Linked DNA regions of Homo sapiens: all the other regions are reported to be linked to region 5. Evidence: microRNA targets listed by miRTarBase, many of them from high-throughput screens and not tested one by one. Region 5 holds a microRNA gene; each other region holds the end of a gene's coding sequence.

The links. The annotated mature microRNA hsa-miR-6819-5p reads UUGGGGUGGAGGGCCAAGGAGC and lies in region 5 at 3,127-3,148, shown strand. An mRNA with a match to its seed (bases 2 to 7 or 8) in the 3' UTR can be bound and repressed. Matches are read on the target gene's strand: a 7mer-m8 pairs with bases 2 to 8, a 7mer-A1 pairs with bases 2 to 7 and ends in A, and an 8mer does both.
Region 1: miRTarBase lists NAA50 as a target of hsa-miR-6819-5p. Seed matches in the 3' UTR shown: 8mer at 540-547.
Region 2: miRTarBase lists GDE1 as a target of hsa-miR-6819-5p. Seed matches in the 3' UTR shown: 7mer-A1 at 2,401-2,407.
Region 3: miRTarBase lists ASB6 as a target of hsa-miR-6819-5p. Seed matches in the 3' UTR shown: 7mer-m8 at 701-707, 7mer-m8 at 1,845-1,851, 7mer-m8 at 2,205-2,211 and 7mer-A1 at 3,105-3,111.
Region 4: miRTarBase lists MUC17 as a target of hsa-miR-6819-5p. Seed matches in the 3' UTR shown: 7mer-m8 at 803-809.
Region 6: the mRNA of MID1IP1 is a reported target of hsa-miR-6819-5p. Seed matches in the 3' UTR shown: 7mer-m8 at 1,392-1,398 and 7mer-m8 at 1,429-1,435.
Region 7: the mRNA of PTMS is a reported target of hsa-miR-6819-5p. The part of its 3' UTR that is shown has no 7-base or 8-base seed match.

What each region holds. Positions count from the first base shown.
Region 1 is chr3:113,717,793-113,722,228 of GRCh38, reverse strand. NAA50 (N-alpha-acetyltransferase 50, NatE catalytic subunit) reads left to right here. Exons shown (of 5, transcript NM_025146.4): 5 at 292-4,436. The coding sequence ends at 469. Among named protein-coding and RNA genes, the nearest start is that of USF3, 23 kb to the right of the region's middle.
Region 2 is chr16:19,499,700-19,504,135 of GRCh38, forward strand. GDE1 (glycerophosphodiester phosphodiesterase 1) reads right to left here. Exons shown (of 6, transcript NM_016641.4): 6 at 1,994-3,918. The coding sequence ends at 3,771. Among named protein-coding and RNA genes, the nearest start is that of TMC5-AS1, 14 kb to the left of the region's middle.
Region 3 is chr9:129,633,719-129,638,154 of GRCh38, reverse strand. It overlaps ASB6 (ankyrin repeat and SOCS box containing 6), which reads left to right. Exons shown (of 6, transcript NM_017873.4): 6 at 1-3,550. The coding sequence ends at 365. It overlaps NTMT1 (N-terminal Xaa-Pro-Lys N-methyltransferase 1), which reads right to left. Exons shown (of 4, transcript NM_014064.4): 3 at 3,849-4,101; 4 at 2,020-2,947. The coding sequence ends at 2,691. Among named protein-coding and RNA genes, the nearest start is that of ASB6, 6.2 kb to the left of the region's middle.
Region 4 is chr7:101,057,529-101,061,951 of GRCh38, forward strand. It overlaps MUC17 (mucin 17, cell surface associated), which reads left to right. Exons shown (of 13, transcript NM_001040105.2): 13 at 475-1,331. The coding sequence ends at 516. It also overlaps the pseudogene RN7SKP54. Among named protein-coding and RNA genes, the nearest start is that of TRIM56, 26 kb to the right of the region's middle.
Region 5 is chr22:36,285,593-36,290,028 of GRCh38, reverse strand. It overlaps MIR6819 (microRNA 6819), which reads left to right and starts at 3,122; the gene lies at 3,122-3,182. It overlaps MYH9 (myosin heavy chain 9), which reads left to right. Exons shown (of 41, transcript NM_002473.6): 32 at 732-944; 33 at 1,090-1,302; 34 at 1,616-1,777; 35 at 3,183-3,311; 36 at 4,076-4,164; 37 at 4,248-4,371. RefSeq lists an enhancer at 3,121-3,633.
Region 6 is chrX:38,804,775-38,809,210 of GRCh38, forward strand. It overlaps MID1IP1 (MID1 interacting protein 1), which reads left to right. Exons shown (of 3, transcript NM_021242.6): 3 at 1-1,758. The coding sequence starts at 173. The coding sequence ends at 724. Among named protein-coding and RNA genes, the nearest start is that of MID1IP1-AS1, 3.1 kb to the left of the region's middle.
Region 7 is chr12:6,769,491-6,773,902 of GRCh38, reverse strand. It overlaps PTMS (parathymosin), which reads right to left. Exons shown (of 5, transcript NM_002824.6): 2 at 4,229-4,300; 3 at 3,904-3,982; 4 at 3,685-3,746; 5 at 2,951-3,511. The coding sequence ends at 3,461. It overlaps LAG3 (lymphocyte activating 3), which reads right to left and starts at 1,383. Exons shown (of 8, transcript NM_002286.6): 1 at 993-1,383; 2 at 564-711; 3 at 1-206. The coding sequence starts at 1,050. RefSeq lists a silencer at 1-123.

The DNA.
Region 1 (4,436 bases), not on the chromosome of region 5:
TTATCCTCTTACAGTGAAAAAATTTTGATAGCTGTGGTACTTTTCCCTTTGTTGACTACAAGAATAAACACTGAGCCTTCTAATCTCAGCCAGCTGTCTTACAAATGTAAAAATTAGATTAAAAGTGTAAAATTGTCATCAAAAGGTTTTAGGTAAGCATGCCTAACCCTTGTTGATTACTGGTAGTTGTAAAGAGAATGTAACAGATGTTTGGAGCTATCTGTGGAGAATGCTTAAAACTTGATGAAACCTTAATTTTAATTTTTTTTCTGATACTCTCTTATATCTCAGGCATGTCCAGATCAGCAATGAGTCGGCAATTGACTTCTACAGGAAGTTTGGCTTTGAGATTATTGAGACAAAGAAGAACTACTATAAGAGGATAGAGCCCGCAGATGCTCATGTGCTGCAGAAAAACCTCAAAGTTCCTTCTGGTCAGAATGCAGATGTGCAAAAGACAGACAACTGAACAAATTACAAATGAACTTTCTTGCACTTGCTTGTCGCCAAATAAAAGAGAGGCCCATTGATTCCTCCCCCACCCCAACACTTTTCTTTTAAAGCTTTTCTCCCTCCTTGTTCTTGTTTTTCTTTCTTCCTTTCCTTTTCTCTGAGAGTTTTAATACTTTCAAGGACTTTAAAAAAATAATCATGTTTGAATTGTTTTCTCTTATTTTTGTGAGGTGGTTTGAAGGAAGGACAAGGTAGATCTGTTTAGTTTTGCAGTTGAAGTTAGATGGTCCTAAACATTTAATTGTCAAATAATTTCAAATTTAATGTCCTGCTTTCACATTGAAGGGCAGAGCCTACAAAACATTGTATATTTCAAAAGACAAAAAGAAGCAGCAGCAGTATCTTGTTCTCTAATTCATAGACAAGTTGAGTGTGTTTGTGGTACTTTGGGTTTTTAAACACTTTGGGATACTAATCCCTAGACATTGCCTTCACTCCACCTTTAGTCCTTCTGAGCACTCTCTCGGGAGTTGGAACATTGTTATCCTTGTAAGAAATACTAAGCTTATGTTGATTTTTAAGTAATTATATCTTCTCTTCTTGCTGGTGGGTGGGGCAGTTTGGTTTAGTGTTATACTTTGGTCTAAGTATTTGAGTTAAACTGCTTTTTTGCTAATGAGTGGGCTGGTTGTTAGCAGGTTTGTTTTTCCTGCTGTTGATTGTTACTAGTGGCATTAACTTTTAGAATTTGGGCTGGTGAGATTAATTTTTTTTAATATCCCAGCTAGAGATATGGCCTTTAACTGACCTAAAGAGGTGTGTTGTGATTTAATTTTTTCCCGTTCCTTTTTCTTCAGTAAACCCAACAATAGTCTAACCTTAAAAATTGAGTTGATGTCCTTATAGGTCACTACCCCTAAATAAACCTGAAGCAGGTGTTTTCTCTTGGACATACTAAAAAATACCTAAAAGGAAGCTTAGATGGGCTGTGACACAAAAAATTCAATTACTGTCATCTAATGCCAGCTGTTAAAAGTGTGGCCACTGAGCATTTGATTTTATAGGAAAAAATAGTATTTTTGAGAATAACATAGCTGTGCTATTGCACATCTGTTGGAGGACATCCCAGATTTGCTTATACTCAGTGCCTGTGATATTGAGTTTAAGGATTTGAGGCAGGGGTAATTATTAAACATATTGCTTCTATTCTTGGAAAAATAGAAGTGTAAAATGTTAATAATACAAATGTCACTGTGACCTCCTCCACTGAGAGGACTGGTTTATGCCAGATCATTTTCCGGCACACACGGAGTGGCTTTGACAGATTGATAACTTTGTAAGATGGGAGACATCTGAAATATTCATGTTTTCCTTTTGTAGTCCCATCTCCACTATTTAGAAATGTTCTCAGACTTTAAAATAATGCACAGGGCTTGAGCTTTCTGTCATTTGACTTTAAAAGGAAGTTTCATTCATATTTATCCTCTTATGTAAAATTGCGGTATAAAGTCTCATTTCCAAATATGTTAAATGACAAAATTATTTTATAAAATGTTTATGCACACTTTATAACCTTAAGTTTTTATTTGAGAATGTGAAAGTACAAAGTGCAGTAGACTTCAACAATCTTGAGTGCCAAGAATAATACAGAAAAAGAAGACAGTTGATGAATGAGTTTATAGGGTTCTAATCTTAAGATGGTAAAAATGTAGAAAGACCTTGCTGGTTTTTTGGGGGTATTCGTTTCTTAAACAATCCAAATCTAAGCTTAGAAGAAAAGTTTAGCGTTAAGCACCTTTATCTTCATGAATAAGCTTCAGCTTGCTCTTGGCAAGAGAAGAGTGCTTGAGTTACAGAAGGCATAAGTAGTTTGAAGAATGCAGCAGCCTTTTTGTAAACTTCCCAGATATCAAAATAGACTTTGATATATAAATGGTTTTCTGAGATGACACTGCCTCTATTTCTATAACCATTTCACCTGGACTATCTAATCAGTCCTATGAATGTATCCCTAAATGTGGTTATTGAAAACCTAATAGCTGCCTCATGACAAGTACATGTTATTTAAGGAGGAAAAAATATTAAATTTTGAATTGAGTGTGTAGGCTCCCTATCATTATATATAGAGTTTCTTTTTCCACGGTAGTCAGTGACTTAACCTGAATTGTAAATGTTTGTAAAGGGTTAATTGTCCTACATCAAACTTAGTTAAATAATTCCATCCACTTATGGAGGAGGAGGAGAATGTGGAAGAGGTAAAAAGCTGGGCACAAGTTCATATGCCTATGAGTCAGTAAAGACTGAAGTAATGTCCTATGTTGAGCTGGTTATTTTGATATATGATAATAATTATCTTTGAAGTAGAACAATTCTGTTAACTGGAAAATCACAGGATATATCCATCATATTTTTCAGGACAGATAGTTTTTACTGTGGGGCAAATAGGTTAAAATTACACTATGTTAGTTGCATTTAGGTTTTAAAGCAAAGAATCTGTAGAGAAATCTATGCAATATATAGTTTGTCCAGATTAGCTTTCATTTGGGGAATGAAGTTCTGAAATATCTAAAGCAGTTTACTCATCAATTGAAAAGTCCTCCAAAAAGAGAACTATTGGGAAACCATGGTGTGGTGGTGGAAAAGAAAAGCTCCCTCAGTTTTTTGGAGGGAATAACTTAAAAAAATACTTAAATGGCTAAGTTTACTTGGTGCAGTTAAGAATTAAACTTGTCAATTTTAACATTGCTGTTACATCTGAAATAAACTTATGTGATGTTCTGGTAGTGATCTGTGATATCTGTAAATGTCAAAACTGTATTGTTGAATTCTGCAGCCAGCAACCGTACATACTCATTGTGTAGTGTTTCCCTTACTGCTTTTATTTACTTTCACATTTAAGATCTAATTTTAAAATCATTAAAATAGGCCAAGTGTAATTAAGGCATCCTAATTCAGATCTTCTGTGACTTGCTAGGTACAGTGCCCAATATCTACAATTCAGTTCCAATGAGAGGGAAAAAGTAAGATCCAAGGAACTGTCTTGCTGCTGTATTTTTAATGTAATTATTAGAAATACTTGACACTTTAGGCTGCAATCTAGTTAGTAATGTTTATTGGCTACAGACAACATATTCAGGTGTTTTGTTTTTCTTCCTTGTAAGGAAGGAGTACGGTAGTTCAATGAGTTGGGAATTGGCTTTTAAGCTTTTTATCAAACATGAATTTAAGATTTTTTCTTTAACAGAATTCAGTATTTAATATTTCTAGTCAAAATTGTTATAATTAGATTTTTGCTTTTTTCATTTAAGAAGCAATGAGTGATCCTTGTCTAGTGTGTCTCAGTTATTACTGTAGTTTAAAACAACAAACAAGTATTACCTTCCACAGTTCTGGATCAGGAATCTAGGAGCTGCTTAACTGGGTGGTTCTGTCTTGAGATCTCAGAAGGTTGCAGTCAAGCTGTTAGCCAGGACTGTACCATCTTGAAGCTTGACAAGGCTAGAGGAGCCATTTCCAAGATGTCTTGCTTACGTGGCTCTTGGGCTTCTGTTCCTCACTGTGTGGGTATCACACACAGTGCCTGATGCTCACGTGGCTCTTGGGCTTCAGTTCCTTGGGCACCAGTTGCCTGGTGGACAACTGGTATGTGGCTTCCCCTAGAGCAGGTGATATAAGAAAGTGAGCAGAAACCATACTTTTTTATGACGTAGCCTCAGGTGACATTATTTCTGCCATATTCCATGAGTCACACAGACCAACCATTGAATCAGCTTGGTATAGTGTGGGAGGGGACTGCACAAGGATGTGAATACTGGGAGGTGGATATCATTGGGCCCTCTAGGAGACTGGCTATCACTGCTCAGAGAAGATGCTGGGCTTCGTTGACTCCCAAGGTCAGGGTAGTTTTGGTTAGGTTGTGTTTTATTAGTCTCTAAAAGGAGTAGTTTTCTAAATGAGGGTTATAAAGCACTGCACTTTACAGT
Region 2 (4,436 bases), not on the chromosome of region 5:
GGTTTAGACATGAATTTAATTCTTAAGCAATAATTAATTACAGTTGTAGTAGATGCTCTGAAGAAGCACAGGGACTAAGGGAGACTTGTCTGTGGGGTCAGTGCAGGCAACCCATGGAAGTGATGTTGGAAGTGATTTTATTCCCCTTGGGGTCATCTTAGTGCTGTTTGTGCTTTTTTCTTTGCTTTTTTTTGAGATGGAGTTGGAGCCTCCCTCTGTCTCCCAGGCTGGAGTGCAGTGGTACAATCTCAGCTCACTGCAACCTCCCCCTCCTGGGTTCAAGTGATTCTCCTGCCTCAGCCTCCCGAGTAGCTGCGATTACGGGAGCGTGCCACCAGGTCCGGCTAATTTTTGTATTTTTAGTAGAGACGGGGTTTCACCATGTTGGCTGGGCTGGTGTTGAACTCCTGACCTCAGATGATCCGCTCGCTTCAGCCTCCCAAAGTGTTGGGATTACAGGCGTGAGCCACCATGCCCGGCTGCTGCTTGGGCTTCTACAATGAAATCTGAACTCTCTCTGAAAGCATCACTTCTGCTCATTCACCAGATGCTAAGTGCTTCCATCTAGAATGCTTCTCCCTTCACCTCCATCCCTTGTCTCCACTTCAGTGCAGCCCTGCTTCTCCTGGAGGTGTACATGCAGTGGATAGTGGCTCATGCCTGTAATCCCCGCACTTTGGGAGGCTGAGGTGGGCGGATCACCTGAGGTCAGGAGTTCGAGACCAGCCCAGCCAACATGGTAAGACCTTATCTCTACTAAAAATACAAAAATTAGCCGGGCGTGGTGGCAAGCGCCTGTAATCCCAGCTACTCAGGAGGCTGAGGCAGGAGAATTGCTTGGACCCAGGAGGCAGAGGTTGCAGTGAGCTGAAATCGCACCACTGCGCTTCAGCCTGGGTGACAGAGTGAGACTGTCTCAAAAAATAAAGAAACTACTGTACATGGAAAGCATTTTAAACAGTCTAGGACATGGTAGGCAGTCAATAAATGTTAATTAGCAAGGATTTTACATGCACTCTTTCATTTAATCACTACCACCGCAAGAATACTACCCCTATTTTACAGATAAATTCAGTAACTTACCCAAGGTCATATAGCTGGTAAGTTGCTGAATAGGAAGGCAGACTTGGCTTTCTCTGATTCCAAATCCTGTTATTAACCCTATACTAAGCCTTCCAAGGAAGTGCTTAATAGTAGTTATTAATACCTTATTTCATCATTCAAATTCTCCACCTTTTGAGGCCCTGACCATCTTAGCATAGGACCTAAATCCTTAATTTGGCCTGGCTGAATCAAAGGTAAAATGGATTTGGGATAAAGATCAAGAGACAGAGATCTCATGGCTCTCCAGAGATCTTCCCACAACACAAAGGGATATTATTATTATTATGAAATTTTTAAAGATTGGAGTCAAACTCTGTCCCCTAGGCTGTAGTGCAGTGGCACGATCCTAGCTCACTGCAGCCTCAACCTGCTAGGCTCCAGTGATCCTCCCATCTCAGCCCCTATTTGTAAATTTTTTGTAGAGATGGGGTCTCACTATGTTGCCCAGGCTAGTGTTGAACAGCCTGTTGAACAGCTAGTGTTGAACAGAGGTATCTTTTTTTTTTTTTTTTTTTTTTTTTTGAGACAGAGTCTTGCTCTCTGGCCTAGGCTGGAGTGCAGTGGTACAATCTTGGCTCACTGCAACCTCTGACTCCTGGGTTCAAGCAATTCTCCTTGCTTCAGCCTCCTGAATAGCTGGGATTACAGGCATGTGCCACCATGCCCAACTAATGTTTGTATTTTTAGTAGAGATGGGGTTTCCCCATCATGGCCAGGCTGGTCTCAAACTCCTGGCCTCAAGTGATCCACCCACCTCAGCTCCCAAAGTGCTGGGATTACAGGTATGAGCCATCACGCCTGGCCTGATGTATCTTCTTTGGTCACTTTTTCCTCCTCCTTTCACTCTAGTCATAACATGGCACGGAAGTACATGCAGTTTAGACATTTGTTGCACTCAATGAACAAATCTTTGTTGTTTATTTTAAAATTCAAGACAATTTTTTTGCAAATGCTGATTCAAAACGTACCAATCCCCATCTATCATGCCTATGCCAATACAATCTGTCACAAAAAAGTTTGCTTCTCATTGTCACATAGCTATGGGGACTGGTGGCCTTCTAAAATCACTGTCCAGCTGCTGCAAGTGTGAGGCCAGCAACCCACGGCAGGGATGCAGGAGGGAAGCCATGGCTAAGCTGTGGGCCTGGACAAAGGCCACAGATGGGGTTGAAAGGTGAGAAGCGGTAAGCTAGAGGAGACAGACGGCGTTGCCATTAAAAACAATTCAACTTCATTTTAATGTTGCTATGTAAGTTCACAATAAAATCCCTGGAAGTTCAAATTGGAAAGAGCAGTTTGGGGTCATGGGCTCAACAATATAAAGGCAGATTCAGTGAGGGGTAAGGGTAGTGGCTCTGGGGGCAGACTGACCTAGATTTGAATGCCAGTTGTACCAGACTCAAGACACCTTGGGTAAGTGGTTTTATGAAGTACCTCAGTTCTTCATCAGTAGAAAGAGTGCTAACACCTCCATAAGACTTTTGTATGGATTGAGTAAGATAATGCATGTTAAACCACTTGTATAGTTTCTGGCTAACTGTAAACAAGATGTTCTAGAAGTTCTAGTTATCTTTTTTTTTTTTTTTTTTTTTTTTTTTTTAAGAGTCAGGTTCTCACTGTGCCACCAAGGTTGTAGTGCCGTGGTGTAATCATGGCTCATTGCAGCCTTGAACTTCTGGGCTCAAGTGATCCTCCCACCTCAACCTCCTGAGTAGCTGGGAATACAGGCATGCACCACCATGCCTAATTTTTTAGAGATGGGGTCTTGCTATATTGCCCAGTCTGGCCTCAAGTAATCCTCCTGCCTCAGCTTTCTGAATTGCTGGGATTATCGGCATGAGCCACTGTGCCCAGCTAAGCTGTGACTTTTGAGGCAACCCCTTCCCTTCCACAGAGTTTAGTTTCCTCATTTGTAAAATGAGGACAAACCTAGATATTTTTGGAAGTTTCTTCCAGTTCTAATTGCCTATGATCAGATCACATCTGTTGCAGAGCTTCCTAAAAAGCCTGGAAAAATGCAACTCTGCCCCCTGGTGGTTTGCAGCTCTCTATTCAAGATGCTATAAATCCCTCATTGGCTTCAAGACCTCCCTACCATTTTGGTTGCTGTACACTGAAGCCTCACTGGATTGCATGGTGGCTTCCCCAAATTCCGTATGCCTTAGGATATGATGCTTGGCACACAGTTTTCCTTTAGTGCTCCTTTTAATAATTTTATTAGTATGGCCACAAGTTTGATGTCTACAGTACATGTTAACATAGCTGAGTACAAATATTTGAAATAAGTGTGGCAAGTTTTAAAATGTCAACTCTGAGTTATCATGCATGTCCCATGCATTTACATCTGCATCTGCAAACTGTACAATTCAATCTGTGCTTATCCTCACTGGGTCTCCCTGTGTGCCTCAGCTAGGGCAGGGCAGGGGCTCTTGTGCGTTTTTTCAGACCCAGATTTTCAAGAGCAACAGTGTTGAACTCTGGCATGCCATGGTGCATGGTGGCAACACCGGGTTTAGCTTTGGTTCAGGTAAAAATGCAGTGACCAACTATTGCATTTGTGTGAGTCACCTGATTCCCCAGGGCCTGGGCTAGCACAAAGGGTATTTTGATATCCCTGTATGAGGCCCCTGGCAGTTTCTGAACCCGTTTCGTCCCACCGTGAAAGTCTAGAAGTGAGGTTCGCAGTCTTCTACCATGCTGTCAGTGATATAGCTGGAACCAAGATGGGATTCGTAGTAACTCTTTTCATCAAAGGTATTAACAGTCCAACCAACAACCTGGATTCCTTTAGCTGACCACTTCTTCAAGTAGGCCCTGGGGAAAGAGGAAAGCCAATCCTGTTAGAATAATAAGCAGCTGTCTCAGGAATCCATAATGGCCACTAAGTATGGTGTTCACTGCATACCAATGGTGCCCAGAGAATGCCTCCTAACTGGCCTCTGCACTGTGATCAGAGGGACTGTTCCAAAACCCAGGATGCCATGAACCTCCTCTACACTGTCCCAGCTTAAAACATTTCAGTAGCTCACTAATGATCGCCACCCCCAAATGTCCTTGGCACAGCCACTGAAGGTGTGCCTGACCTGGCCCCGACCTGTCTCCTTGGCTTCATCTCACACCACATTCCCCCTTTCTTTTCTGTGCTGATTAATTTTAAATTAATTGAAAGAATATTAATTTTCTTTCACTTCCTGGAAAGAACCATGTTCCTTCCTGCCAGAGCACATTACATGTATTTTTCTCTCTGATCTGGATTCCTCCCAATTCCCACTCACCCTTCAGATCTTAGCTTAACTGTCACTTCCTTGGGGATGCTGTTTCTGACAACCCAG
Region 3 (4,436 bases), not on the chromosome of region 5:
ACATCATCTTTGAGAGGCTCTGTTCCCACCCAGGCTGCACGGAAGACGAGAGCCATGCGGACCTCCTGCGCAAAGCTGAGACTGTCCTGGATCTCATGGTGACCAACTCTCAGAAACTCCAGCTGCCCGAAAACTTCGATATCCACCCTGTGGGCAGCCTGGCGGAAAAGATCCAGGCCCTCCACTTCTCCTTGAGGCAGCTGGAGAGCTATCCCCCGCCCCTCAAGCACCTGTGCCGTGTGGCCATCCGGCTCTACCTTCAGCCGTGGCCTGTGGATGTGAAGGTCAAAGCCCTGCCTCTGCCCGACAGGCTGAAGTGGTACCTCCTTAGCGAGCACAGTGGCTCCGTGGAAGATGACATCTGATAGGTCTCAGGCTACAGGAACGGGGGACACGGGCAGCTCAGGTCAGCCTGTTGGTAGATGCTGGGACAGCATTAGAAGAGGGTCTTTTTGATCTGGGAGATGAGACGGGATCCTTCATGAGAAAAGCCAGCCAGGTAGAGCCTGAAGCTGTGATCACTCCAGTGGTGAAGGGTGCAGCTCTGGTTCTTCCAGAGAGACTGCCCCCTTCCCTCCAGCGGCACTCCAAGTCCCCCCCATGTTGGAAAGAGGAACAGGGCTTGGATTGATGTTTATACCCTCTGAATTGGAGGGCAGTGCCAGGGCATTTGCAGAAGCTGGGAAGGACCAAGCCTCAGCACCCCAGGGCTGCGGGGCTCTTGTTGGCCGCACGTGGCAGTGCAGCTGGAGAGGAAGCCTGGGGCACGTCCTGTGCGGTGCCACCAAGGCCCCACCCCTGCCCCTTTTCCTTCCAGGTTCTGTTACTCACAGAAGTGTTTCTGGTGGGCTCTGCGGGAGAAGACACTAAGGGCCCCACAGGCTTGTTTCATGGTGTTGCAAGCCAAGCTGGCCCCTGCCTGTTCCTGTAGCTCTGGGGCCAGGTCAGCCGTGGCCCCACCTACCAGAACTGTGCTCTGCTGGCAGCTGTGCTTTTGCCAAACCCAGGGCCTCAGCGACCATGACTTCTGCTAAAAAGCAATCATGAGTGCGTGGCTGGGGACAGACCTCTCTGAAGTGTCTCCTGTTGTGAGGGGCTCACTTTGGAGCCACTGAAGAGCCGACTGTGCCACCCACTTGCGAGCCTCAGTCCCTTCCAAGCTGCACTGGTCATTGGGAATTGTGTAAACACCTCTGGGGATAAGCTGAGGTGACTAAATGATATATTTATATTATAAGATTAAACTGACTTTCTTGGCCTTAACAAGGTCCTTATATAAAATTTCCACCCCGCCCCTCCATAGTTCAGGATAGAGGCTCCCACAGCAGCCGGTAAGGAAGTGGGTGGCAGGTGTGAGGGGATGCTGTGTTTGGGGGGTTGTTTCCAAGTCCCTGCAAAGAAGCACCACTCTAGACTGGCAAGGGCCTCCACAGTGTGGAGGTCCCATTTTATTATTTTTTTTTTTCGAGACACTCTGTCACCCAGGCTGGAGTGCAATGGTGCAATCTCGGCTCACTGCGACCTCTGCCTCCCAGGTTCAAGCAGTTCTCCTGCCTCAGCCTCCTGAGTAGCTGGCATTATAGGTGCCCACCACCATGCCTGGCTGATTTTTGTATTTTTAGTAGAGACGGGGTTTCGCCATGTTGGTCAGGCTGGTCTCAAACTCCTGACCTCAGGTGATTCGCCTGCCTCGGCCTTTCAAAGTGCTGGGATTACAGACATGAGCCACTGTGCCCGGCCCCCATTTTATTTTAGTTTTATTTTGAGACAGAGTCTCGCTCTGTCACCTAGGCTGGAGTGCAGTGGCGCAATCTCACCTCACTGCAAGCTCTGCCTCCCGGGCTCACCCCATTCTCCTGCCTCAGCCTCCTGAGTAGCTGGGACTACAGGCGCCCGCCATCACGCCTGGCTAATTTTTTTTTTTTTTGTATTTTAAGTAGAGACGGGGTTTCACCTGTTAGCCAGGATGGTCTCAATCTCCTGACCTCGTGATCTGCCCGCCTCGGCCTCCCAAAGTGCTGGGATTACAGGCGTGAGCCACCGCGCCCAGCCCCATTTTATTTTTTACTTTAAATGCCTGCCAAGGAGCAGCCTCAAGCCCAGAGAAGACTGAGGCTACGGGGAACTTCCCTTGCTGCAGGCTGTTGTAACACTTTAAGGGCCCCAGGTCTCCACTGCCAAGCAGGACTTGGCACATGAGCACCCACCCCACAGCACCATCAGGCAGCACCCATGGGCTCCACCAGCCCAGCTCTGTCCCTCCCCTAGGTAAAGATCACACTGAAGTCTTCAAGTCCCCAGCAACCAAGTTGGGGGTGGTTTCCTTCCTCTTCAGGCAGCCAGGCCCATGGCTGGAAGGCCGGGCTGGAGGCCCAGGGAATCGGTTACTGATGTGGCCACCCTATTCCCACATGGGGAGCACCAGGAGCCCTGGAGCCCCTTCCACCCAATCCCATCTCGCAGGAGAGCAGGGTCTGGGCTCCTGCCTCACCGCTGGTTCAGCAGCACCCTCCCCGCCGGGTCCCACCTTGCCTTTTGAAGAAGAGCCCGCATAATGAGTGGACGGCAGACAGCTATATTTAGTGGTGCCTCGACACTCACGAACCGCCAGCGTGGCGCCTGGATCTTGCCCAGCTGCCAGCTCCCCCCACCAGGACTGTGGTTCCTCAGTTTCTCCTGCCAGCCCCGGCTCATCTCAGGGCAAAGCTATAGACATGGTAGATCTCATCGGGGAGGTTCTCCTGCCTCTCCTCGGCCAGGAGGCTGAGGCCTGCACTGCAGATGATCCTGCGGACCACGTCAAGGTCCCGGCACACGCTGCTGTCCACGTCGTCCAGAATCACGCCCTCCTGGGCCATGTTGTCTTTGATGACGATGATGCCGTTGGGGCGGAGGCTGCCCTTGCAGCGCCGCAGGAACTCGGCCAGGTGCTGATCGGTGAGGTGGCCTGGGGAGGGCAGAGGCAAGGTTACCAGGGCACCATGCAAGCGGATGTCGGCACTGGATGGGATGTACTTCTCAGCCCCGCTGAGCCCCTCATTTGTGCCCAGCATTTTGTGTGCACACATGGCCTCATTGGCTCTCAGTCCCGAGAGATTTACTAAACCCCAATTCATAGAATAGGAAACTGTGGCTCAGAGGTCATCTACCTAAAGACACATTAAGCCAGAATTTGACTTGACGGGATGGCTTACAAGTCCTGCCTGATACCTACACACCATGATGCCCCACCCCTGCCAGGCTTGGATCGGAGGAGTGAACCTGGGCTAAGAGTTTGGCATTGCAGGAGCTCCCAGAGAGACTGCCTTCCCTACACTAGAAGTCCCCACAAAGGCTTCTGAGACCACAAAATACAAGGCCAGACCTAGAGTGTCCACAGCAGGCCTGTGCTGCCCGCCTCAGGAGGTGGCCGACTGCTGCTAGCGGCCTGCCGCCACGTCAGCAGCCCAGGGCACAGCGCTCGAGGTGTGCTGTTAGGCTAAGAGGGTGCAGGGCTAGACACGAAGCTTAAACTATTCATCTTATTAAAAATAAAACCCTTATAAAACTCCTCACTTTGAATGCAGTAAGTTATTGGCCATTAAAATTTTTTCAACAAAAAACTGCACCCAAATGGATGGTAGCAGGTATTCAACTGAAACAAAACCTAGAAGGAAGAAATCTACCTTTTAGGCCGAGCCTGTCCCTCAGTCCTGGGAAGTACGGGGTGGGGGTGGGCCTGGGCGGGGTGGGGAATCCTCACTGGCCCACTTGCTGCAGGAGTGCAAAGCCCTGGTCCTGACACCTTATGGGGAACGCGAGTGGCAGGAGACATACAGGTGAGCAGGGAAGGGCGGTGGAACCCTCACCTATCACCCACTGGATCCAGATCACGTCGTAAGAGTCCGGCTCCGGGGTGAAGTCCTGGAGCCCACAACAGAAGTAGTTCCTCACCCTCTTGCCCTCCTCCCCCAGGTAGGTCTTGGCTTGAACCAGGAAGTCCTCCGTTATGTCGACCATATCCACCTCTCTGAACAGCGGCAGGAGCAGCCGCTTGGTGATCCTCCCAATGCCAGCTCCACAGTCCAGGGCACAGGACGTTCCTGTCTTGTTCGGGCCTTCCTGAAAAGCAGAGGCATATAACCTATCAGAGGGACCCTGTCACCGCACGTGCGGCCCTTCCTCACGAGCCCTAGGACTTAGACTCAAGTCAGGATTCCAGGACTCCGCACAAGCTGAGCACTGGTGGGGAGGTCTGTGCTGGCTGCCAGCTTGTACGGAGTCGAGGGGATGAGCATGGGAGGACACACTGCTGGGCCACACATTCCTTTATCTTTGAAAGTTCAGGTTGCATTCTGCATTCTGTTCAGGTTGGAATGCAGTGGTGGGATCATGGCTCACTGTAGCCTCGAACTCCTGGGCTCAAGCCATCCTCCATCTTCCCACCTCAGCCTCCC
Region 4 (4,423 bases), not on the chromosome of region 5:
AGTCAGGAGTTTAGGACCAGCCTGGGCAACAAAGTGAGACTCTGTTGCTATAAAAGAAATAATAATCATAGCCAGGTACAGTGGCTCACACCTGTAATCCCGGCACTTGGGGAGGTCGAAGTGGATGGATTGCTTGAGCCCAGGAGTTTGAGATCACCCTGGGCAACATAGTGAAACCTCATCTCTACAAAAAATTTAAAAATTATTCAGGTGTGGTTGTGTGCACATGTAGTCCTAGCTACTTGGGAGGCTGAGGTGGGAGGATTGCTTGAGGCCAGAAGTTACAGGCCATGGTGAGCCGTGATTGTGCCACTGCACTCCAGCCTGGATGGCAGAGTAAGACCCTGTCTCAAAAAAATAATAAAAAATAAAAATAATTAAACAGAACACTTCCTATCCCAATCCTCCTTATGCTTCCAGAATCCCAAATTCCTCATGGGCTGAGCCCTCACTTGGTTTTATCTCTCTTTTCAGATCCGAATTCAGAGGCCTCAGGTAATGACGACATCATTTTAAGGCATGGAGCTGAGAAGTCTGGGAGTGAGGAGATCCCAGTCCGGCTAAGCTTGGTGGAGCATTTTCCCATTGAGAGCCTTCCATGGGAACTCAATGTTCCCATTGTAAGTACAGGAAACAAGCCCTGTACTTACCAAGGAGAAAGAGGAGAGACAGCAGTGCTGGGAGATTCTCAAATAGAAACCCGTGGACGCTCCAATGGGCTTGTCATGATATCAGGCTAGGCTTTCCTGCTCATTTTTCAAAGACGCTCCAGATTTGAGGGTACTCTGACTGCAACATCTTTCACCCCATTGATCGCCAGGATTGATTTGGTTGATCTGGCTGAGCAGGCGGGTGTCCCCGTCCTCCCTCACTGCCCCATATGTGTCCCTCCTAAAGCTGCATGCTCAGTTGAAGAGGACGAGAGGACGACCTTCTCTGATAGAGGAGGACCACGCTTCAGTCAAAGGCATACAAGTATCTATCTGGACTTCCCTGCTAGCACTTCCAAACAAGCTCAGAGATGTTCCTCCCCTCATCTGCCCGGGTTCAGTACCATGGACAGCGCCCTCGACCCGCTGTTTACAACCATGACCCCTTGGACACTGGACTGCATGCACTTTACATATCACAAAATGCTCTCATAAGAATTATTGCATACCATCTTCATGAAAAACACCTGTATTTAAATATAGAGCATTTACCTTTTGGTATATAAGATTGTGGGTATTTTTTAAGTTCTTATTGTTATGAGTTCTGATTTTTTCCTTAGTAAATATTATAATATATATTTGTAGTAACTAAAAATAATAAAGCAATTTTATTACAATTTTCATGGTTCCCAGATCTTTCCTCCTGTTTCCCATAGCTCCTGTTTCTAACCTCCCAGACTCTCTCTCTCTCCTCCAGAACATAAAATCGGATGCTTTTGGGGTTCAAGACAACAAGAGAGAGATTTGCAGTGGAAAGAGGACCATTCCTTGAACTCCACTGACACCATTTGCTGGTGTCCAAGAGGCAAGGCAGACAGACAGACAGACACACACACACATATACACATACACACAGAGGGGGGGGGGGGAGAGAGAGAGAGAGAGAGAGAGAGAGAGAGAGAGAGAGAGAGACTCACTTCCTACCAAAGAAAACCAAATTTTGCAAGCTCTCCTTCTGAAAACGGGCTTTTATTTCTTTCCATACATCTAAAGAGATAGAGACCTGGGTTCTATTTCAAGCTTTCTCGTGAATTCCTTGGGTTAAATCTGGGAAAAATCTATTTGGACTCAGTCTTGCCTTCTGCCGAATAAGGACTAGGTTATTTCTAAAGCCTCTTTCATCGCTGTCCTTCTTAATATTCCTAGGACGCTTTTTAATAATTATTGTTATTCCAGCCATGCCGCTCAGGATTCATTGTATTCTTGAAAGTCTGTCCCACCCGCCACCCGCTTCAAAGCCTAACCTGAGACAGAACCTGGACTCTGCTTCCCCCTACTGGACACTCTGAGCACCTGCAGGCACCATGCCGTTTCTCAGCGGTCCCCTTCTGGCCTCTCCTGTGACAAAAATATTCCGTTACACTTGATCATTTCCATATTTGCCATCAAAATTCTGTTTCTTTTCTTTTCCTTTTTTTGAAACAAAGTCTCACTCTTTCGCAAAGGCCAAAGCACAGTGGTGTGATCACTGCTCACTGCAACCTTGAGCTCCTGGGCTCAAGAATTCCTCCAGCCTCAGCCTCCCAAGTAACTGAGACCACAGATGCCGGCCACCACGCCCGGCTAATTTTTAATTTTTTCGTAGAGACGGGGTTTCGCTGTATTGTCCAGGCTGGTCTTGAATTCCTAGGCTCAAACGATCCAACCACTTCTGTCTCCCAAAATGCTGGGATTCCAGGCATGAGCCACTATGCCCGGCCTTTTTTTTTTTTTTTAATTTTGAAAATTTGCAAATCTACAGGGAAGTTAAAACAATAAAGTTAAAAAAGTGAACCCTACCTGGGCGTGGTGGCTCACGCCTGTAATCCCAGCACTTTGGGAGGCCGAGGCAGGCGGATCACCTGAGGTCAGGAGTTCAAGACCAGCCTGGCCAACATGGTAAAACCCTGACTCTATTAAAAATACAAAAACTAGCCGGGAATGGTGGCGCATGCCTGTAATCCCACTTACTTAGGAGGCTGAGGCAGGAGAATGGCTTGAACCTGGGAGGCGGAGGTTGCAGTGAGCGGAGATCGTACCACTGCATTCCAGCCTGGGTGACAGAGAGAGTCTGTCTTAAAAAAAAAAAAAAATTACACATATATATGTATATATAACAGTGAACCCCATATAACCTTCACCTGGAGTTATCAGTTGTTAACGTTGTGTCCTATTTGCTCTAAAGTGGTATGTATTTTTTCGAATTAAGCAAAATTGGAAATTAAAAATTAGAAAAGTTACAAATAAAAAATTACCACGAACCTGACCTTTTTTTTTTTAATTTTAGACTCAAGGGGTACATGTGCAGGTTTGTTTCAAAGGTATATTGTGTGGTGCTGAGGCTTAGAGTATGAATAAATCTGTCACACAGGTAGTGAGCATAGTACCCAATAGGTAGTTTTTCTCTTTTTTTCTTTTCTTCTTTTTTTTTTTTTTTTTTTGAGACCGAGACTCGCGGTCACCCAGGCTGGAGCGCAGTGGCACAATCTCAGCTCACTGCAACCTCTGCCTCCCGGGTTCAAGTGGTTCTCCTGCCTCAGCCTCCCGAGTAGCTGGGATTACAGGCGTGCACCACCTTGCCTGGTTAATTTTTATATTTTTAGTAGAGACGGAGTTTTGCCATGTTAGCCAGGCTGGTCTGGAATGCCTGACCTCAAGTGATCTGCCTGCCTTGGCGTCCCAAAATGCTGAGATTACAGGCATGAGCCACCACACCCGGCCCCAATAGGTATTTTTCCGACCCTTGACCCCCTCCCTCCTTCTCTGATTTTGGGGTCCCCAGTGTCAGCTGTTCCCATATTTGCGTCCATGTACACTCAATGTTTAGCACTCACTTATAAGCAAGAACATGCGGTATTTGGTTCTCTGTCTTTGTGTTAATTCATTTAGGATAATGGCCTCTAGTTGCATCCACGTTGCTGCAAAGGACGATTTCATTGTTTTATTTATGGCTGCATAGTATTCCATGGTGTACATGTACCACATTTTCTTTACCCAATCCACCATTGATGGGCACCTAGGTTGATTCCATGTCTTTGTTACTGTGAATAGTGCTGCAATAAACGTACAGGTGCAGGTGTGTTGGGGGTAGAATAGTTTATTTTTCCTTGGAGTACATACCCAGTAATGAACAATCCTCAGTTCCCAAAACTGAGCTGAATTCATACATCTTCACTTTCAGACCTGCCTCCTGCCTCCCATAGGCATCTGTGGCCATGGGAGCGGGGACTTAACAGGGCTACAGACCCCACATCCCATCTGGAACTGAAATCTCAGCACCTTCCCACTCTCTCATCCTATCTGTGAAACGGAGAGGCAGGACAGAGCACCCAGACCCATAGGCTGCCCAGGTCCACTCTTGGTGAGCCATTTACTACCTGCGTGAGCTTGGGAAAGTAACTTCTTCTCTCTGAACCTCTGCTCCCTCAGCTGTAAAAACAAAAAACAAAAAACAAACAAACAAAAAAAACACAACAACAACAACAAAACTGAGTAGCTGGGCGTGGTGACTCACATCTGTAATCTCAGCACTTTGGGAGGCTGAGGCCGGTGGATCACCTGAGGTCAGGAGTTTGAGACCAGCCTGGCCAACATGGTGAATTCCCGTCTCTACTAAAAATAGGAAAATTAGCCAGGTGTGGTGGCACACACCTGTAACCCCAGCTACTTGGGAGGCTGAGGCAGAAGAATCACTTGAACCTGGGAGGCAGAAGTTACAGTGAGCCGAGATTGCA
Region 5 (4,436 bases):
TCGGGCAGCCAACTGTGGTAGCCGGATCCGGCCCCTGCATTTTGTAGGGAACGATAGACTGAACACAGCCACGCTCCATGGTTCTCATGTTGTCTCTGGTTGCTTTGTGCTGTGGTAGTGGGGTTGAGCCATTGCTGCAGAGACTGTAGGGCCTGCATACTCTAAAGAATGCACTATCTGGCCCTTTAGGAAATGGTCAGCAACCCATGGGATAATTAAGGTTTGGGCCAAAAGGAAGGGAAGGTGGGGAAATAGGATAGAGCCAGGTGGGTGCACACAGAGAACAGATGCCAGGGGACAGCAGCTGTCATTAGAGAAGACCACAAATGGGGTTCAGGCTTCTTGGCAGCCAGCTTGGCATTCACTTCGTGAAAAGTGCCAACCAAATGCCAGCTGTGGTTCAGGAGAACCAAAGCTCTTACAGGTTTGGAGGGCTCTCATGGAAGGGGCAGCGTGCCATAAAGGGTTGCGATTAGTAAGTGATGAAAATTAAACAGACGTTACAACATGGTGTTCGCAGTAGTGCCTGCTCCAGTCGGCAGTCATCCCATCATGAGGATGCACGGGACTGTGTGTATTGTCCTGGGCACAGCCCTGGGCCTGTGCTTCCTAGGCCTGCTCCTCTCCACCGTGGCCTCTGGGCTCCTCCTTCCCCAGGGAGCTTAGGCCCAGCTGCCCTGCCCTGCTGGGGGCCGTAGCTCTGAGCCTCATGGTGCCCACCTCTTTCCCAGCTCCTGGCGGAGGAGAAGACCATCTCTGCCAAGTATGCAGAGGAGCGCGACCGGGCTGAGGCGGAGGCCCGAGAGAAGGAGACCAAGGCTCTGTCGCTGGCCCGGGCCCTGGAGGAAGCCATGGAGCAGAAGGCGGAGCTGGAGCGGCTCAACAAGCAGTTCCGCACGGAGATGGAGGACCTTATGAGCTCCAAGGATGATGTGGGCAAGAGTGTGAGTCCTGGGCCTGGCAGCCAGGTCTTGGGAAGGGCCCGAGTGGGGTCATCACAGAGGGTCGGTGTGTGCACAGACTCCGGGTCGCGCAGACCCAGGTACCTGCCAGTCCCTTTGCTCCTGACTTGGGCTCTCTGGGGCTCAGGTCCACGAGCTGGAGAAGTCCAAGCGGGCCCTAGAGCAGCAGGTGGAGGAGATGAAGACGCAGCTGGAAGAGCTGGAGGACGAGCTGCAGGCCACCGAAGATGCCAAGCTGCGGTTGGAGGTCAACCTGCAGGCCATGAAGGCCCAGTTCGAGCGGGACCTGCAGGGCCGGGACGAGCAGAGCGAGGAGAAGAAGAAGCAGCTGGTCAGACAGGTGTGCATGGCCTCCTGCTACCCCATGGGTGCCCAAGGCTGCCTTGGCTTCACGCAGGCTTCTGTTCTCTCCTTCCACCTGGATTGTGTTAGGGCCCCTTGACCACGCCTCCCCTCCCATATTCCTTCTTTCTAGCCTCCTGTCTCGGGGTTCAGTGACTCACTTTCTTAGAGTTCTTATGGTCAGTAATCCCCACTGGTTTCCCGAGGCCCCATGGATCCTGCAGAACTGGCCTGAGGCTCCTGAGTTCAGAGCTAGGGCAGGGTCTCCCAGTGGGTCCAGCTTCCCAAGTTGTTGATGTTCCTTCCCCCAGGTGCGGGAGATGGAGGCAGAGCTGGAGGACGAGAGGAAGCAGCGCTCGATGGCAGTGGCCGCCCGGAAGAAGCTGGAGATGGACCTGAAGGACCTGGAGGCGCACATCGACTCGGCCAACAAGAACCGGGACGAAGCCATCAAACAGCTGCGGAAGCTGCAGGTAAGGGTGGGCGGGGCCCAGGTGAGGGTGGGCGGCACCCGACTGAGCCAACTACATATGAAGGTGCCAGGGCTCGGCCCAGGGCGGGAACCTGGCAGGGTGGCACCTCCTGGGAAGGTCCTGGGTGCTTCCAGCCCCATCTCACTGACAGAGACTCAGAGGCTCAGAGGTGAGTGGAAACATGATAGTCCAACAGCAAACTTGCAAAACGGTGTATGACTGGGTACATAAAACACAGAAGCAAACAAGTACAAGCCTAGACATGGGTGGAGTTCAAGAAGGTCTCACTTAATGCAGACTTCCAGAATCACCCGGGTCCTGACACCCTTCAGCCTTCTGGGCTCTGGGGCGATGGTTCCAAGAAGCAGCCCGGAGTGTGGGACACATACTTGGAAATCTTCACCTCACTAATAATTAAAGAATAATTAACACGTAAAAACAGCTCTGATACGCCATATCATGTAACAAGAATAACCTTAGTTTAACAAATTTTTTTTTGTTTGTTTGTTTGAGACGGAGTCTCGCTCTGTCGCTCAGGCTGGAGTGCAGTGGCATGATCTCGGCTTGCTGCAAGCTCCGCCTCCCGGGTTCACGCCATTCTCCTGCCTCAGCCTCCCCAGCAGCTGGGACTACAGGCGCACGCCGCCACGCCCGGCTAATTTTTGTATTTTTAGTAGAGACGGGGTTTCACCATGTTAGCCAGGATGGTCTCAATCTCCTGACCTTGTGATCCACCCGCCTCGGCCTCCCAAAGTGCTGGGATTACAAGCATGAGCCACTGCGCCCGGCCAAAAAAAAAATGTTAAGTGTAAAAAAAAAACCCACAAAAACTTTAAAACTTCATTGTGGTCAAGGTTGTGGGCATAGATGCTCTGATTGCTGGTGGCATTTTTTTACTGGTGTGGTCGGGCTGCACACAGCCAGTCACTCTCTTTGATTTGGGGAATCTCAATTTCGGATTTATCTGCAAAAGGAAAAAAAGGCTATTTGACAAAGGTCTTTAGTGTTAAAAGAAGTAACAGGAGAATAACAAAAGGAAAGGTGTTTCCTGCCTGTGGTGGGGATGGACCGGCAGGCTGGGCACTGGTTTTGAGTGGCAGGTGCGCATTAGGGGTGGCACCATGGGCACTGGCTTCCGGCCCACAGGAGGGGACAGAAAGTAGAAAATGAAGCTCAGCTTGGGCTCACGTCCACGGTGACGAACACTGTCAAAGTGTGCATTACGGGGTGGGATACACAGATGATTGTCTTTAGTTGCCTTTTTGCCCTGTCACCACGGTTAGTTGGTTAAATACAGCATTGAGTGGAGCACCAGCCATGAGCCCTGTTGGCGAGGTGACCCATGAGGGTTGGGGTGGAGGGCCAAGGAGCTGGGTGGGGTGCCAAGCCTCTGTCCCCACCCCAGGCCCAGATGAAGGACTGCATGCGCGAGCTGGATGACACCCGCGCCTCTCGTGAGGAGATCCTGGCCCAGGCCAAAGAGAACGAGAAGAAGCTGAAGAGCATGGAGGCCGAGATGATCCAGTTGCAGGAGGTGGGTGGGGCTGCAATGGAGAGCGGCACCGCTGCCCTGCGGCCAGCAGGTGGCAGCGTGGGGCTTTCAGCTGAGGACAGGGCTGGAGTCCTACTGGGCTCCAGGAATTGGCTGGGGATGGCTCTCAGGTTACATAAGGATTCCCTCCAGGGTTCCGTTTCATAGCGGGGCTCCCTCGTATGATCAGAGTGTGTGTGTGTGTGAAACTGGCATCCCTCACATGAGATGAGGCTTTGTGGCCACCACCACCTCCTGCTGTGAATGCTGCCTGGTGAGAAGGGGTCTGAGCGTCCCCTCGGCCGCCCTGCCCGTCGCACCTGAGCCCGTCCTGAAGTGTTTCCCAGGTCTGGAGGGTGCCCTGCAGCGTGATGTGCCGGCTGCGAGTGCGTCCAGGGTGTAGCCATCTGCCTGTGGCCTCCAGAGCTGACTCCAAGCTCTGGCTTACCCAGAACAGGGAGGGGCCGCCCTGAGTGACTCTGTCCACGTGGTCTCCCTGGTTAGGCCAGGACACTTCTTACTTATCGCCATACCCTGGCACCTGGCTTGATTCCTAGCACTTAAATGTAAGAGTTTTATAAACATATGGTGTTTAAGCTATATCTTCAGGGGGGCACCAGCCCTGTGAGCTAGAGGGTTTCTGGAGGAAGGGCTTCGTGGGGAGGTGGGCCTGGGGAAGGGCTTGAGGGGAGGGTGCCTGGGGCTGGGAAGGATGGTCTTGTGGGGCTGTGGCTGCCTTTAGGTCACACTCTGGGTCTTTGTGGCAGGAACTGGCAGCCGCGGAGCGTGCCAAGCGCCAGGCCCAGCAGGAGCGGGATGAGCTGGCTGACGAGATCGCCAACAGCAGCGGCAAAGGGTGAGCTGAGTGAGGGGGCAGAGTTGGGGGGGACCAGGTGTGTCCCCAGGGTAGGCCCCTCACTTCTCCCGCCCACCCCGCAGAGCCCTGGCGTTAGAGGAGAAGCGGCGTCTGGAGGCCCGCATCGCCCAGCTGGAGGAGGAGCTGGAGGAGGAGCAGGGCAACACGGAGCTGATCAACGACCGGCTGAAGAAGGCCAACCTGCAGGTGGGTGCCAGGACTTCTCCCACTCTGGGCTCTGGCTGGAGCCACCACGGCAGAGCTGGCCTTGG
Region 6 (4,436 bases), not on the chromosome of region 5:
CAGCGAGACGAGAGTTGGCGAGGGCGGAGGAGTGCCGGGAATCCCGCCACACCGGCTATAGCCAGGCCCCCAGCGCGGGCCTTGGAGAGCGCGTGAAGGCGGGCATCCCCTTGACCCGGCCGACCATCCCCGTGCCCCTGCGTCCCTGCGCTCCAACGTCCGCGCGGCCACCATGATGCAAATCTGCGACACCTACAACCAGAAGCACTCGCTCTTTAACGCCATGAATCGCTTCATTGGCGCCGTGAACAACATGGACCAGACGGTGATGGTGCCCAGCTTGCTGCGCGACGTGCCCCTGGCTGACCCCGGGTTAGACAACGATGTTGGCGTGGAGGTAGGCGGCAGTGGCGGCTGCCTGGAGGAGCGCACGCCCCCAGTCCCCGACTCGGGAAGCGCCAATGGCAGCTTTTTCGCGCCCTCTCGGGACATGTACAGCCACTACGTGCTTCTCAAGTCCATCCGCAACGACATCGAGTGGGGGGTCCTGCACCAGCCGCCTCCACCGGCTGGGAGCGAGGAGGGCAGTGCCTGGAAGTCCAAGGACATCCTGGTGGACCTGGGCCACTTGGAGGGTGCGGACGCCGGCGAAGAAGACCTGGAACAGCAGTTCCACTACCACCTGCGCGGGCTGCACACTGTGCTCTCGAAACTCACGCGCAAAGCCAACATCCTCACTAACAGATACAAGCAGGAGATCGGCTTCGGCAATTGGGGCCACTGAGGCGTGGCGCCCGTGGCTGCCCAGCACCTTCTTCGACCCATCTCACCCTCTCTCATTCCTCAAAGCTTTTTTTTTTTTTCCTGGCTGGGGGGCGGGAAGGGCAGACTGCAAACTGGGGGGCTGCGTACGTGCAGGAGGCGCGGTGGGGCTGCGTGGAGGAGGGGGCCACGTGTGAGAGAGAAGAAAATGGTGGCCGGAGATGGGAGGGCCCAAGGAACCTCCTGGGAGGGGGCCTGCATTCTATGTTGGTGGGAATGGGACTGGGCTGACGCCCTGCATTCAGCCTGTGCCTTTCCTGGGGTTTCTTTTCTGTTCTTTTCGGAGGAGAGGGCCCGAGAAGGGGCCATACCAGGGCGCGGCGCTGGGTTGCCACACTTGGGAAAGCAGCCCGGAGCTGGGTGCTGGGGAAGGCGGGGCGCGTAGCCTCCCGCCGCCCTGCGGTTGGGCCGGTGGAGGCCCAGGCGTTGCTAGGATTGCATCAGTTTTCCTGTTTGCACTATTTCTTTTTGTAACATTGGCCCTGTGTGAAGTATTTCGAATCTCCTCCTTGCTCTGAAACTTCAGCGATTCCATTGTGATAAGCGCACAAACAGCACTGTCTGTCGGTAATCGGTACTACTTTATTAATGATTTTCTGTTACACTGTATAGTAGTCCTATGGCACCCCCACCCCATCCCTTTCGTGCCACTCCCGTCCCCACCCCCACCCCAGTGTGTATAAGCTGGCATTTCGCCAGCTTGTACGTAGCTTGCCACTCAGTGAAAATAATAACATTATTATGAGAAAGTGGACTTAACCGAAATGGAACCAACTGACATTCTATCGTGTTGTACATAGAATGATGAAGGGTTCCACTGTTGTTGTATGTCTTAAATTTATTTAAAACTTTTTTTAATCCAGATGTAGACTATATTCTAAAAAATAAAAAAGCAAATGTGTCAACTAAATTGGACAAGCGTCTGGTCCTCATTAATCTGCCAATGAATGGTTTCGTCATTAAATAAAAATCAATTTAATTGATTTACTAGCAAAAGTAAATTTTGTGTTCTCTCTGGTATTTCATGGTGGTGGATATTCATCTGTGCAAGTATTTAGCTTTGTTTGGGAACTAGGTACTGACAAAATTTACTTCCAAACTTTATTTCTAATTCAGTACCAAGATAAGACCATACATCTCAACAAAAAGTTCAGAAATATTTAAAATATTTGGGAAGGTACATATATTGTATCTTTCAACCAATTTGGCTAACTTATTGGAGTGCGTAATTAACATTTTGAATTTTTTAAGAAGCTCAAGCACAAGCTAAAGTGTTTTGAGGCATAAAAACAAGGCTGAAATTTCACTTGGTTACTGAGAAGTGAAAATTAGAAGGGAAGACCAGCTAATCCTAGTGCACACACCTTACAGGTTTTTATGTTTATCTGAGTAGACATTTAAATGCATTACAACATGATCGATGACTTCTTTCACTAGTTCCAAAAAGGGCTAAGCTTTGTTGAGCGGCGTCCAGTAATGCTTCCAGTTTTTCAGTGAGCCAGTCTGCAATTGTGGACAGCAGTTCTGATCAAGGCTGCTGTGGAGCCCTTGGGAATGCTTAGGTGCCATTATGATGCTCTGCTGGGATGGTGGGAAAGGTAAAAGAATGTGCTCTGCATATTCTTTATTTCATTATTTGTTTTGGGGTATAAATGTCAGATCAACTTGTTGAAGTCATGAGGCATTCTCTAAGCTCGTAGGGCTTGAATTTAAAATACATATAAGTTAGCGGTCTTAAAAAACAAGCAAAATGTTTTGTGGTGCTGGCGGGCAGGGGCAGTTCAAGTCTATCAGCTTTTAGCAGCAGTGAAAAAAAATGTGGAAGTGTCAAGATGGGTGCTTGCCAGTTGCCAGAGAAAGTTAATCTTTAATTTGTATAAAGATAAGCTAGGCAGCACCAAAAGTAAGGCATACAGCCTCTTGTCTCGTGTCCCCTTTAAAATATCAAAGTGCAAGCAAAAAATAAAGGAAACTGAAAAAAAGAAAAAAGCTGCATGGTAGAAACACAAAGACTTTCAAAGACTTTGGAGCCAGAAACTGTGCAAATCCTCTTGCTACTAATTGTGTGCATTTAACTTCATGCCTGTTGCCACATTAGTAATCAGGCATAAAAATAACTACACTGCTTCATGGAGTTGCAGTGAGAATTAAATGAGATTATATATAAAGTGTTTGAGGCTTAAAATTTTCTTTAGGCACTGCTGAAATGCTTTACAAGTTTCTCTCTTTTTTGATGTTTACAGTGATTACATTTATCTAAGCAACTTTCATACATGTTCAGTTTTAACATATTGACTACTCTGACAAATATGCTTAAAAAAAGCAATAACATTATAGAGTTAATGCAGAGTCCTAAGGATAGTCTAGTAGCCACTAAGTTTTTTCTTAAGTCTTCACTTTAGATGCTGTTATTTCTAGCACAAGCAAGCAGAGTCTTTCATATGCTTACACCCTGGAGTCTTTGGTTGCTACCATTATCAGCTGGCTTGCAAACCAGAAGCCAACCATTTTAGGAATGCTTTAAGTGAACAACATGCAAACCCCAGGGATGGAAAAAACCCTAAGAATGCCCAATTATGAGCATTTACAACCATCACAACTGTGGCTGAAGACTATGCCCTTCTGAAATGAGATCTTAAAGCAGTATAGTTTGAAACAAAAGGTTTTAGCAAAAAAATGACATATGCACAATTTCTCCACCACTTTGTGTGAGTCAACCATTTAGTTAACTTTTCCACTTGAAAAAATGCAATAGAAAACCGGACACCATGTTTCACTATCTCAGTTAATATTCACAATTACAGTGGCTACAACTCGGAAACGGCATCACCAATGCTGCCCAGAGTCACTTTATATTGAAATTAAGTTCTTTACACCAATTAAATGGTTGTTTACAACCACTGGCTAGTGTACACAGGAAATAAAATTTCTAGATTGGGGGGGGAAACAAATGCTGCTCCAATCATCTCCTCTGCTGCTTCTGTTCCTCAATTCATGCTTAAAAACCTTTCATGTTACTCTTGGTTTTGTCCGTTTGCTTGCCTGTGGGGGTTTGGGCCTGCTGACCTGCACATTTCTCTCTTAAACTAAATGTTGTTTCGTGTCTCCATTTCTGCCCCCACCCTACATTCTTCGTGAATATATGAGGCTTAGGACAATATGTCCATTTTAAGGAAAAGCATAATTTTAATTACATACGTGAAGCAACAAGTAAATTATTTCCTTTCTCAAAGCCATGAAGGAGAACTTGACTTAAAACCAAAAATAAATAAATAAATAAAAATTAAAAAATCACAGTTTGGGCAAGTGATAGCAAGAACTTTGGGGACATTCACTGAAAGTTGTTTTTGGAATATTATTGCAGTATATATAATACAGAAAAGTACATGTAGATAGAAAAACTAAACTCTAAAGAGTTATCAATTATTAACTTTATTTTTGAAAATATTTCTTCATGTAAGAGACTTTTTATATATAAACAGTGATTCTGACCTAGGAGTAATGATGCTCGCTGTTAAAAGAGCATTGGGATATTTATGAACCAATAAGGTTTCCGGGCCCAGTAAGTACTATTCCACTAGTGGTAACTACTATTTTATTCCAGATCAGTTTGTGAAACAAAATTAGGACAAATTCCCAAAAGATTTACCAGTTAAAACTTCGCAAGCTATTGA
Region 7 (4,412 bases), not on the chromosome of region 5:
GGCGCAGCCATAGCGAGAAGTCCCCGCGCTGCCGGCCGCGCTCATCCAGCTGGACGCGGGGCTGCAGGGGCAGCCTCCCGCTGCGCAGGCCTCCGGGACCCACGCTCAGCACCGTGTAGCGGCGGGGCCTGGGCCCCCAGGAGGAGGGCGCCGCCGGGTGAGGGCCGGGGGCCAGGGGATGGCCGGGGGCGGCAGCGGGCGGGCCACTGGGCGGGAAAGAGAATGGAGTTGAGAAGCTCCAGGGGTAGGAAGCCCGGGAGGATGCAGGCAGCCACCCGTTGAGGATGAGAAAGCCCGCCCCAAGAGTTCTCTTGACCACCAACCGTCCCCTCACGCCCGACCCCTCTGTTGGACTGGCCGCATCCACTTCTGGAGAGAAGGGATGCTGGCGTGAGGGTCGCTGATTGCAGAGCAAGGGCAGGAACGGTGCAAGCGAGGGCAGGGAGACTGGGTCACTGGCTTCAGAGGGAGTGACACCTCAGGGCAGGGGACAGAGGACCGGCACGGGTGTGGGGTTGAGTGCTGGATTCGGAGGTCCTGTTGCCCAAGTTTGGGGTGCATACCTGTCTGGCTGATGCTGCCAAGTGACCCCTGCTCTTCGCAGAAGGCTGAGATCCTGGAGGGGGATTGTGGGGCTGCAGGGGAGCTGGGCAGGAGCCCCCTCCTGGGCCCACACCACCGGGACCTCAGCCCCTGGCTGGAGAGGCTTCACTAGGTGAGCAAAAGAGAGGCCAAGGGGAGGGGGCGTGAGCCGAGAGGCAGGGGTAGAGAAGGAGCCTGGGTGTTTCCCGAGGGAGAAACAGGGTGCAGGAAGAACTTGGGTTTCTGTTTCTTCTCTGCCCAGAGAGGCTTTCGGGGTGGAAGGACTGCCCAAAAAAGGGATTAGAAGAATCCACAGAGCTAAGGACCTCAGGACCTTTGTGGCCACAGAGATCCCTGCTGGTCCCCTCCTGTGGGGCTGGAGGTCAACCCTCCCGCCATCCCCGTTTTACCTGGAGCCACCCAAAGCGGCTGCAGAAACAGCAAGCCCAGGAACTGAGCCTCCCACATCTCTCCTATGGTCTGGGCAGCGCTGAGCCCTCCAAAAGGAGGTCAGAAAAGGAAAGGGGGCAGTGGTGGGGGGTGGGGGGTAAAGGAGAAGTTCTGCAGAGAGGGAGGTGGAGGAAGGGGTTCTAGAAGAAGGGAGACCAGGAGAGGGCCTTGGAGAGAGGGTGGGGAGGGATGACCAGAGGCCGGAATCCAGAGGAAAGCTGGAAAGCTGGGCAGATCAGGCAGCCTGAGGAGGTGGGGGCGGGGGTGTCCCAGGGAACAGAGCAGGGCCGTGGCGGAGAGCAGACAGAGCAAAGTGGCCGTCGTGGCTGGGATGCCGTTCTGCTGGTCTCTGGGCCTTCACCCCTGTGCCCGGCCTTCCCTCCACCTTCCCCACTTCCCCTCCTCCCGGCCCGCCCCCCGCACCCCAGGGCTTACGGTTTCGCTTCGCAGTGGAAAGTCTGAGGGGGTTGATTCCCAGCAGCAGCACCCTCCACCTCTCCACCTCTGTGGTGGCGCTCCCCTTGTTTACTTCCTCAGTCCTGGGTCTCCCCACCTCCCCCTCCTCGCCCCTGCCCCACCCTCCAGACTGCTCCCTCTCCCAGGGACCTTCTGCCTCCACGAACCATTTCTGCCTGGAACTGCCCCCTTGCCCATCTCTAAGCTGCCTCCTCAGTCCCAATATTCACACCTCCTTCTTGGCAAGCTCTTTCCTTGTTGCTCAATCTCCTTCCTCGTTCCCTTAACCTCCCAGAACTTCGTGACCCCTTTAGACCTGCCTTTCCACCCATCAGTACAATGTCCCTGGGAACATGGTGGACAGGAAGCCTTACTGCACCCCAAAAAATGGTAGGTCTGAGGCTAGGCATGCCAGCTTTGTGGGGCATGGAGAATAACTACATTGTATTGAGGCTTCATTACGTGCTAAGCACTGTATTGGACACTTTACTTATAGTAATTCATGAAATCTAATGCTTTTCCCCATTGTACAGATGAGGAAACTGAGCTTCAAAGAAATTGTACAATTTGCCAAGGTTAGGGAGCGTGAAGATAAAAGCTGTGAGTGTACCTGTGTGCGTGACAGTGTGTAGTCCTGACCTTGGATGAGTTACGGGCGTCTCCTGGGAGAAATGATGCTGTTGATGAGTCAACACCCCTCCCCACTCCAACTCAGGTCCCCATGCCCTCAGAAGCATCCTCCAGTCCAGAGGTTCCGAACTAAGAGGAGAAGGCAAGGGCCATGCGGAGATGGAGAAATGCAGAAATCTTAGAAATCTCCTAACAGAGATCAAACTCAGGGGAAACAGAGGCAGTGGGACTAGGGAAGGCCCAAGACTGACAAGAGTCATACAACTCCCGCTCCCCAGCCCAGCCCAGGGAGAGTTGGAGGGCAGGTGACGAAACATACAGCCGACCTGGGGATGACACGAGACCCAGGATTTCCCTGCTTGACTGGAAGGAGCTCGCTTCCATGCCAGGCAGAGGGCATCTCTGATGCCAGGCAGCTCACTCCAGATCCTAGCAGGCTGAGACCCAGGACTACCAGCCCTCTCCCAGCTCAGGGGAAGGACTTCCTGTTTCTGGGCTGTTTCTCTGTGCCTGGTTCAGCACAATAGAGCTGGTAGCTTTCCACTGGGCTCAGCAGTGTCTAGGTCTTGTGTGGGTTAGCAGGGAAGTGTGTATTGCTGGGGAGGAGCATCCCTGAGAATCCAAAACAGGACATAAGTCAGCTCTCAGAAGAGCTGGGCTCCAGGCCACCCCTGGAGGGCTGATCTTGTCTTCTTGAGTCGTGGGTGGTAGGAGTGTGCTGCTGCTTTTGTATCAAAGGGAAGGGTCCTGGCAGAATGGGAGGTCAGCCACCCTCCTCCCTCTCTACCCTTTTGTCGCACTGACTGGAGCCCCCGGGAAAGCAGGAGACAGGTTAAAAACAGAAGCGCGACCATTTCTTTATTAAATTATACAAAAAGGGAGGGGAGGGGGGCAGCTGTGGGGCTCGGCCCCAACCCCGGCCCCACCCCGGCCTGGCGCTGTCTGAGAAGAGGGGATCTGAGGGAGATCCAGGGATCAGGCAGGATAGGGATGGGGCAGGACATGAGGCTGGGGGATGCAGAGGTTAGGTGGGAGAGGCTACCGGAGGAAGAATGAGGCTGGTAGGGGAGGGAGAAAGAGAGCAAAGAGAGAGAGGAGCAATTGGGGGCCAGCTGGAGAGCTCAGATGGAGCAGGTCAGGAGGTGGAACAATGGCAGAGTGAGGGTGGAGGGCGCAGTGTCTGGAGAGGCGGAAATGAGAAGGCTGGGGAGAAAGAAGAGGGTGGCAGCTCTGGTGCAGGGCCCAGAGCAGGGAGCCAGGTGAAGAGTGGCTGGACTTGGCTGCCCCCACCCCCACCTCCAGGCCCAGAGAGGCCTCCCAACCCCAGCCTGTTGGCAGGGGCTCACGCCGATGCCCCATTTTCTGTCTTCTGCCGTTTGGGATCCGCTTCATCCTGTGGAGAGGGAGAGAATGGGGGAGCTGTAAAATGGGAGGGGAGACCTCCCCCTGTCCCGGTCCTGTTCCAGCCCCCACCCCTGCCACACAGGGATCTGGGTCCAAATCCAAAGGGCGCCCAGCCCGGCTGCATCCCTGACAGCCCCTCAGGCCCAGCAACCCAGCCCAAACCTCCTCTTCGGCAGCTCTCTTCAGCGCGGGCCCTTCATCATCCTCTTCTTCTTCTTCCTCATCTGAGGAGCCAGAAATGGGTCATTGGGGAAGGGCAGGAAGCTCTGGCAGAGCCCCCGTGGTCGCCCTCAGCCCTGCTTCAGGTCTTCAAACCCACCCTGACTCTGCTCTCCTTTGAGCCCAGACTTTGCCAGCCCAGCCTCCCCTGCCCCTCCCCACCTTCTTCTTCCCCTTCATCTTCCTCCTCTCCATCCTCGGCAGTTTCTTCTTCTTCCTCCTCAGCCCCGTTCTCCTCCTCCTGTGGGGACCAGGAGAGGGAGTAGCCTCAGGCTGGCTGCATGCCTTGCCCACCATCACCACCAATGGGACTGGAGCCTGGGTGATAAAAGGGCTTGGGATGGGCCACAGGGTGGGGCAGCAAGGGTGACAGGGCTCAGGGGAACGGCAGGACCCAGCACCCTCGGAAGGAAAGCAGAGGAAGGATGAGATGATTGGGAGGGAAGATGGTAGGGCAGATGTGGTCCTCTCCCCCACCCCTCCACACCTCCACCACTTCTTTCTTTCGCTCTTTCCGGCTTGCCTTCTCCTCCACCTTCTCCTTCTTCTCCTTCAGGTCCTGCAAAGGAGAAAGAGGTCACCTTTCTCACCACAAATGGCTTGCAGCCCCTAAGTCCCTGCAGCCCCAGTTCTCCCTCTGTAGTGAGCTTAGAGGTGTGTGAACTGAATAA